Linked DNA regions of Homo sapiens: all the other regions are linked to region 2. The links come from fine-mapping of genetic effects on gene expression. A gene starts in region 2. Each other region holds a variant in brackets. All regions are shown on one strand. Distances are from middle to middle.

The links. PIP is the estimated chance that this variant, and not a neighbour inherited with it, causes the effect.
Region 1: its variant is fine-mapped to the expression of CA11 in whole blood (INTERVAL, PIP 0.99).
Region 3: its variant is fine-mapped to the expression of CA11 in whole blood (TOPMed, PIP above 0.99).

The regions. Positions count from the first base shown.
Region 1 is chr19:48,611,803-48,614,553 of GRCh38, reverse strand. FAM83E (family with sequence similarity 83 member E) reads left to right here. Exons shown (of 7, transcript NM_017708.4): 3 at 1-1,646. The coding sequence starts at 1,182. Among named protein-coding and RNA genes, the nearest start is that of FAM83E, 1.9 kb to the left of the region's middle. RefSeq lists an enhancer at 1-62 and a silencer at 367-543. The variant T/C (reference allele first, on the strand shown) is at 1,373.
Region 2 is chr19:48,644,567-48,647,317 of GRCh38, reverse strand. It overlaps CA11 (carbonic anhydrase 11), which reads left to right and starts at 1,131. Exons shown (of 9, transcript NM_001217.5): 1 at 1,131-1,752; 2 at 1,841-1,915; 3 at 2,749-2,751. The coding sequence starts at 1,686. It also overlaps the pseudogene SEC1P. RefSeq lists silencers at 513-922, 953-1,142 and enhancers at 1,100-1,800, 1,801-2,501, 2,502-2,751.
Region 3 is chr19:48,607,238-48,609,988 of GRCh38, reverse strand. It overlaps FAM83E (family with sequence similarity 83 member E), which reads left to right. Exons shown (of 7, transcript NM_017708.4): 5 at 1-113. SPACA4 (sperm acrosome associated 4) reads right to left here. Exons shown (of 1, transcript NM_133498.3): 1 at 2,275-2,751. The coding sequence ends at 2,636. Among named protein-coding and RNA genes, the nearest start is that of SPACA4, 1.9 kb to the right of the region's middle. The variant G/A (reference allele first, on the strand shown) is at 1,484.

The DNA.
Region 1 (2,751 bases), 33 kb after region 2:
ATCAAGGGTCCAGGGTCCCCGAGGTTGGGTCAGGAGCCTCAAGGGGATAACTGAGGCTTGGGAGGGAGACAGGGCGAGATAGAGACTGGCCCCTGTCCGGGAAGAAGCGTCCGGGTAGCTGGCAGGAGATAGCATTTAGGCAGAAACCAGGCTGGGGGCAGCTTGGGTAGGGCTCCCCGCAGATCAGAGGACGGCCTGGAACAGGTCCCAGGGCCAGGCCCCAGGCAGGGGCAGCCAGCCTGAGGAGGGTGGCTGGTTAGGTGGCACTCACACCTAGATGGGCTGTGAAGATCATAGACCTGTCCCATAGTAATGGAGACCCCTGTAGCGCATTTCACCCTCCACTGCAGCAGCTGGAAGGAGTGTGAGGAGGGTCCAGGGAGCAGGGTCCCCCATTGACAGGGTAGGGAAGGGTTTGCCAAGCCTTCGGCCTTTAAGGCTGAGCGAGCAGGCCCAGTGGAGAGGCATCCTGGCTGGTCTGCGGGTGAGAGCTGATGAGCAGGAGAAACTCGTGGGGGCTGTCAGATTTGGCCAGAGACAGATGCTCCAACAGGCAGATACTGTGACTGTCAGTCGGAAGCCATTGGCGTTTGCCAGACAGTGGAAGGAGAGGGTCAGTTCGTCGTGCTCTTGGCCGGGGGCAGGCAGGCAACCTGTCGTGCCTTTAAGGACCTTTGGGTGATTAGAGACAGGCAGGCAGCTTGCCGCCTGGAAATGATCAAGTGGTCAGCCTGACCAAATTCAGGACAGCTGAAGGGTCTGACTGGGCACTGTGTGACTGGTGGGTTGGAGGCTGTCGTGTGGCTGAGCAGAGATGGCCAGCTGATGGGTCACACAGTTGGGGATGGTGTCAGGAGGTCAACCTGACCAGCAGAGACGGCTGGCAGGAAGGTCACGGAAGGCCAGCCAGGCATGGTGCCACTGGGTGCAGGCAGGTGGCGGATCTGAGTGGCCTGACACATTGGATGGTCGCTTATTTGGGCAGCGTGATTGTCAGAACAGTGTGGCAGGGGCTGCTGCAGGGAGCCATTTGGACATCTGCAGGGCCCCGCCGGAGGCCTCGGATGGCCACGTAGGGTCTGCCTATCAGGAGAACCCCCAGATGATCACAGTCCCCAGAGACAGCCAGACCCCCGGGGACCCAGCCTCTCACAGTCAGTCCTCCCACCCGAGTGACCCCGATGGCGGCCTCCCAGCTGGCGGCGCTGGAAGGAGTGGACTCCGGTCCCAGGGTGCCCGGGGCCAGCCCCGGCTTTCTATATTCCGAGGGCCAGCGGCTGGCACTGGAGGCTCTGTTGAGCAAGGGCGCGGAGGCGTTCCAGACCTGCGTGCAGCGCGAGGAGCTGTGGCCCTTCCTCAGTGCGGATGAGGT[T/C]CAGGGCTTGGCAGCGGCAGCTGAAGACTGGACAGTGGCCAAGCAGGAGCCCAGCGGGATGGCAGAGGGAGCCACCACCACCGATGTGGACGCGGGCAGCCTGAGCTACTGGCCTGGGCAGTCGGAGCAGCCGGCGCCCGTCCTGCGGCTGGGCTGGCCAGTGGACTCTGCGTGGAAAGGCATCACCCGGGCGCAGCTGTACACCCAGCCTCCTGGAGAGGGTCAGCCGCCCCTCAAGGAGCTGGTGCGGCTGGAGATCCAGGCTGCCCACAAGGTGGGTGTCGCGGGGGCCCTGTGTCCATTCACCAGACTGGGACGGGGACCCAGGCATTCTCTCCCTTGTCCTCCTGGGACTTGCAAGCGCACACCCCTACCCTAAAGGACCTATACCCCTGGGACCCAGGAGTGCACACCTTCCAGCCCCAGGACTCAGGTGCCTACAACCCCAGACCTCATCCTTACTCTCAGAAAGGGGGGCCCGGCCGGGCGCGGTGGCTCACGCCTGTAATTCCAGCACTTTGGGAGGCCGAGGTGGACGGATCACGAGGTCAGGAGTTTGAGACCAGCCTGGCCAACATAGTGAAACCCCGTCTGTACTAAAAATACAAAAATTAGCCGGGCATGGTGTGGGCGCCTGTAGTCCCAGCTACTCGGGAGGCTGAGGAAGCAGAATTGCTTGAACCCGGGAGGCGGAGGTTGCAGTGAGCCAAGATCAAGCCACTGCACTTCAGCCTGGGCGACAGAGCGAGACTCCATCTCAATAAAAAAAAAAAAAGAAAGAAATGGGGGCCCCTACCCTCCCCCAAGACCTGGATGCCCTTAGGTATCGATGCCCCTTGAACCTAATTATGACACCCCCAGTCTCAGTCATTCCCCCATCCCCTCATCACCAAGCCAGGGGTTTCCACTCTCCCTCCAAGGAAGGCCCAGATGTCCACACTGCAGCCCTTGGAAAGCCTGCTGTGTACTTCACAGCCTTAGCGTCCGCCAGCTCCCACGTGAAGGGTTTCTCAGGGACTAATGTGCATCATCGTCCCGGAACCCTGTACCGCCAGAGGGACTATTGTGCCCACGGAGGCACGGGGGCGGTTAAATCTCTTCCCTGTAAGTGGCCGAGTGGGGATTTGAACCCAGGCTGTCTGGCTGCTGAGTCAGGGTTTCCACTGCTTTATGCTGCCTGCAAGATCCAGGCCTTCAGCACCTCCGTGTCCCCCAAGTTCGCCACGGTGGCCTAGCAGGTCAGCCGTCCTGCACCCAGCACCCAGAAAATTCCACAGGACCCAGAAATGCAGTTGCCCACAGTGCCCTACGGGACATCCACCACTGATCCTACAGCCAAACTGCCGTGGACATTTGGGTACCGCAGTGTCGCAGCTCAG
Region 2 (2,751 bases):
AACAGTAATATGTGGTCTCTCTGAGGCTGGGTATGGTTGTTCATGCCTGTAATCTCAATGCTTTGGGAGGCCAAGGTGGGAGGATCCCTTGAGGACAGGAGTTTGAGACTAGCCTGAGCAACATAGCATGACCCCATCTCTTCTCCCCAAATACAAAAATGTGGTGTCTCTCTCTGTCTTTGGATCGCTCTTTCTCTCTTTTTGTCTCTCCCCACCCCATCTGCTGCTTGGTCTCTGAGTTTCTGTCTATCTCTAAGTGTGTGTCTCTATGTCTCCATGTCTGTCTCGCTGCGTCTCTGTATCTCCTTTTCTGCCTCTATCTGTATCTCTCTCATTCATTCCTTCCTCTCTCCCTCCCCCTCCTCCTCTCCCTCCTCCCCCTCCTCTCCCTCCCCCTCCTCTCCCTCCTCCCCCTCCTCCTTCACCTCCTCCCCCTCCTCCTCACTCCTGCCTGGCGGTTTGTTCTTGCCTCTCTAACCTTCTGTCCCTCCGCCCTTCCTCTCCGTATCCATCTCAGGCTCCCTTCCCCTCCCCAGCCTACGCAGATGTGGGTCCTCACCTCCCGCTCTCCGCCTCTGCCCTCCCGGCTCCTCCTCCCCGCCCCTCTCTCCCTCGCCAGGTCTCTGCCTCCCCCTCCAGGCGAGCAGCCCTCACTGCACTTCAGGCTCCTAGGGGATCCCCCGGCCCCGTTAAGGCAGCCCCAGGCAGAGACCCAGTGGAGCCCTGGGGCGGGGAAGGGGGGCTGCGGGCGCTGGGGCGGCTCCAACCTGGGTCCCAGCGAGCAGGGGGACCCTGCATCCGCCAAGGCCGGCGGCCCCCAGCATGGAGACTTCCGAAGCCACTCCCAGCTCCACCTTAAGCGCCCCCCCTTCCCCTTGCTGCGGAGGATGGAAACAGCCTGCTCCCGGCCCCAGGTGTCCCGGCCACCCCCGCCCGCGTGGCCCCAGCGCGGCTGGGAGCCGAGGACCAGCCCCCTACCTCCTTCCGAATCCTGCCCTTTCGCACATCCCACCCCAAGCCAACCCGAGGAGTGTTTGCCGCTATGAGATCACCTGCTCCCCCAGCCCAACAACAAAATTAAATAACACCACGGGAGAGGAGAGAGGGAGGGGGAGGAGGGAGGAAGGGACAAGAGAGAAGAGAGACTGAAACAGGGAGAAGAGGCAGGAGAGGAGGAGGTGGGGAGAGCACGAAGCTGGAGGCCGACACTGAGGGAGGGCGGGAGGAGGTGAAGAAGGAGAGAGGGGAGAAGAGGCAGGAGCTGGAAAGGAGAGAGGGAGGAGGAGGAGGAGATGCGGGATGGAGACCTGGAGTTAGGTGGCTTGGGAGAGCTTAATGAAAAGAGAACGGAGAGGAGGTGTGGGTTAGGAACCAAGAGGTAGCCCTGGGGGCAGCAGAAGGCTGAGAGGAGTAGGAAGATCAGGAGCTAGAGGGAGACTGGAGGGTTCCGGGAAAAGAGCAGAGGAAAGAGGAAAGACACAGAGAGACGGGAGAGAGAAGAAGAGTGGGTTTGAAGGGCGGATCTCAGTCCCTGGCTGCTTTGGCATTTGGGGAACTGGGACTCCCTGTGGGGAGGAGAGGAAAGCTGGAAGTCCTGGAGGGACAGGGTCCCAGAAGGAGGGGACAGAGGAGCTGAGAGAGGGGGGCAGGGCGTTGGGCAGGGGTCCCTCGGAGGCCTCCTGGGGATGGGGGCTGCAGCTCGTCTGAGCGCCCCTCGAGCGCTGGTACTCTGGGCTGCACTGGGGGCAGCAGGTAAGACCTGGGGTTCCCGGGAGGAGCCCCCGAGGGAGGGTGGAGGTGGGGATGCCAAGGAGAGGGATTCAGGCTGCTCTCTTCCCAGCTCACATCGGACCAGCACCTGACCCCGAGGACTGGTGGAGCTACAAGGATAATCTCCAGGGAAACTTCGTGCCAGGTGCCGCCAAGGCGGGGACCCAGGAGTCCGGCCCTCCCGGCGCCTCCTTCTTCAGACTCAGGAACCTGGGTTCCCAGCTCCCTCCTCCCCCCCAGGACCAGGAGTCCCAGCCCCCTCCTCTGTCCCTCAGGAGTCGGGCCAGCTTCTGAACCCCAGGGGCTCACCATGGGACATTATACATGCGCATTTCAAGTAGTGAGTGGGAGTGAGTGGAAGGAAAGTGTGGGGGTGGAGATTATGTGTGTGTTTGCCGGGAGAGGAAGGTCCTGGCTCCTGCTAGGAACCAGAGGCTGGGTGGCCCCGTCCCCCACCTTGTCCAGCCTTCTCTTGCAGCTCCTCTCCCCAACACATTAATAATAATCCAGCTGTGGGATAAGAGCGATTAAAAAAAAGAACTACAACTCCCACGGGGCTCTGGGGCAGGTAGGCAGCAGAGGGGTAGGCTGGTAGCACTGGGGCCTGCTGGGAGTTGTAGTTCCATCTACAGTGGCTTAAGATGGGTTTGATCGGCTGGGCGCGGTGGCTCACGCTTGAAATCCCAGCACTTTAGGAGGCCGAGGTGGGTGGATTACCTGTGGTCAGGAGTTCAAGACCAGCCTGGCCAACTTGGTGAAACCCGTCTCTGCTAAACTTGGAAACTATTCCAAGATTCTTCTAGGACCCAGAATTCTGGATCTGAGCCCAGTCCTCCCTCAGACCCAGGAGTCTAGGTCCCTAGCCCCTCCTCCCCTGGGATCTGGGAGTCCAGACCACAGCCCACTCAGCAGATACCAGCCCTGGGATCCAGTCTCTATTTCTGACTCCTTGTCCTCCTACTCCGACCCCACCCCCAGGGC
Region 3 (2,751 bases), 37 kb after region 2:
CGTGTCGTGCGGGGCTGCAGCTTCCAGAGCCGCTGGCGACGGCAGGTGAGCGGCACCGTGCGGGAGAAGTTTGTGCTGCTGGACGGCGAGAGGGTCATCTCAGGATCCTACAGGTGTAGCCCCCGCCCCGCCCCCCACCTCCCGGCGTCCTATACCCCACTTTCCCTCAGTGTGCTCAGAGAACAGCTGGCATCCCCTTGCCCAGGCCTCTCTTTTCTCATCTGTGTAATGGGGGCAAAACACTCTTCCCTGCGGAGGAGGTTGGTGCCGCGGCCGGACCTGGTGCTGGCCTGTTTAGTGGTCTTGGGTAAGTCTGCTTCTCTTTGACCTGGTGTTTTCTTATCTGGAAAACTGGGCAAACAGTTTGGGGGTGGGGTTTGTTCAAAATCAGGAGCACCTGGATTGGGATCTAAGCTCTGCCTCGGGTAAATAACTCCACCTCTCTGAGCATCTAAGAAAATGCCCGGACATGGTGGCTCACGCCTGTAATCCCAGCACTTTGAGAGGCTGAGGCGGGCAGATTGGCTGAGGTCAGGAGTTCAAGACCAGTCTGGCCAACATGGTGAAACCCTGTCTTCCCAGCTACTTGGGAGGTTGAGGCAGGAGAATTGCTTGAACCCAGGAGAGAGGTTGCAGTGAGCCGAGATCGCGCTGTCGCACTCCAGCCTGGGAGACAGAGCAAGACTCCATCTCAAAAAAGCAAAAAAAAAAAAAAAAAAAAAAGAAAGAAAGAAACTGCAAATAATAACAGCACCTACCTCACAGGGTCACAGCACAGCTAGGGAGGAGAGGGGTGTGGCCTCTGGGACCAGACGGCCTGGATTCAAATTCTAGCTCTCTCAGTTCCTCGTTGTGTGACTTCAGGCAACTTACTTCACCTCTCTGTGCCTCAGTTTCCCCCTCTATGTCATGGGCTGATAGGGTTAGAGCCTCTAGAACCAGGTCCCTCAACAGGGGTGGCACCCACGCTCGGGCTGGGTAAGTCTTTGTTTTAGGAGCTGTTGGGTGCATTGTGGGAGGCTCCTCGGCATCTTCAGCCTCCACCCAGCAGAGGTCAGTAGCATCACACGCCCCATACCCCCGACTTTCCCTGCCAATTAGAGAACCGAAAACCTCTCCAGACAGCGCAGATGCCCACTGGGGAGCACAGGTGCCCAGCTGAGAACACTGCTCAGGAACAGTGGCTTTCAACCCTGTGCATGCACCAGAATCCCTGGGAGCGCTTGTTAAAACACAGCTTTTGGGCTGGGCGTGGTGGCTCACACCTGTAATCCCAGCACTTTGGGAGGCCGAGGCAGGTGGATCACCCGAGGTCAGGAGTTTCAGACCAGCCTGATTAACATGGGGAAACCCTGTCTCTACTAAAAATACAAAAAATCAGCCGGGCCTGGTGGAATGCATCTCTAGTCCCAGCTACTCGGGAGGCTGAGGCAGGAGAATCGCTAGAACCTGGGAGGTGGAGGTTGCAGTGAGCCAAGATCGC[G/A]CCACTGCACTAAAGCCTGGGTGACCGAGCGAGACTCTGTCTCAAAAAATAAAAAAAAAAAAAAAAAAGGAAAAGAAAAAGAAAACGGAAAAAGGCCAGGCGTGGTGGTTCATGTCTGTAGTCCCAGCACTTTGGGAGGCTGAGGCAGGAGGATCGCTTGAGCCCAGGACTTCAAGACCAGCCTGGGCAACATAGCAGGACCCCATCTCTACAAAAATTTAAAAAAATAAAAATTAGACATGATGGAGCATGCTTCTAGTCCCAGCTACTCAGGAGGCTGAGGTGGGAGGATTGCTTGAGCCCAGGAGGTAGAGGCTGCAATGAGCCAAGATTGCACCACTGCACTCCAGCCTGGGCAGCAGAGCAAAACCCTGTTTCAAAAAGAAAAAGAGAGAACAATACACAGCTTTTGGACCCCACTGCCATTCATCGTGCCTGGAACAGGACCTGAGAATCTGCATTTTCAGGAAGTTCCCACTTGCTGCTGCTGCTGTTTCTGGTCCAGGGACCACACTTTGAGAATGATTGGAGTTGAGACCAGGATGTTTGAAATGTTTGAAAGAGTGTTTACCTTCCCAGCTTGGTGTGAGGATTCAGTGGCACGTAACGTAAGACAGGCTTGGCCAGGTGCCGTGGCTCATACCTGTAATCCCAGCACTTTGGGAGGCTGAGGTGGGAGGATCACTTGAGCCCAAGAATCCGAGACCACCCTGGGCAACATAGCTGGACCTTATCTCTACAAAAAGAAAAAAAAAAAAAGGAAAAGAAAAAGAAAAGAAAACAAAGAATGCTCCATGAACATCAGCTGTCATTTATTATGATATATATATATTTTTTACCATATTTCATGGACTCTAAAGTGCTACCAATGGAGAGAAGCATCCTGATTGAGATGTGAGAAGCTCTGCGTCTTAGAACCAGTGGAACAGAGTAATACAATCAAACCCACGGGCCGTGCTCCCCTGCCGCTCAGTCAGGCCTGGGGATGCTTCCCCTAGCACCGGGCTCCTGGTGGACAGCCTTAGAAGGGATGAAGCCAGGGCCGCAAGAGGTTGTCCAGGGCCTCTCTGGCCATTTAGTGGGGGAAGGACATGGGGACATGGGGAGTGGCGGATCTGGGAGAACAGTCCCAGGCCCTGTCCTCCCTGTTGGTCACAGCAAACGTGGAGGAAGCAGCATACCCAGCCCCAGTGCCAGGCTGGTGGTGGCCCCCACTGTCTGGCTGCTCGGGGCTCTGTTACACAGGCGGCCGGTGCAGCAGTTGGTGG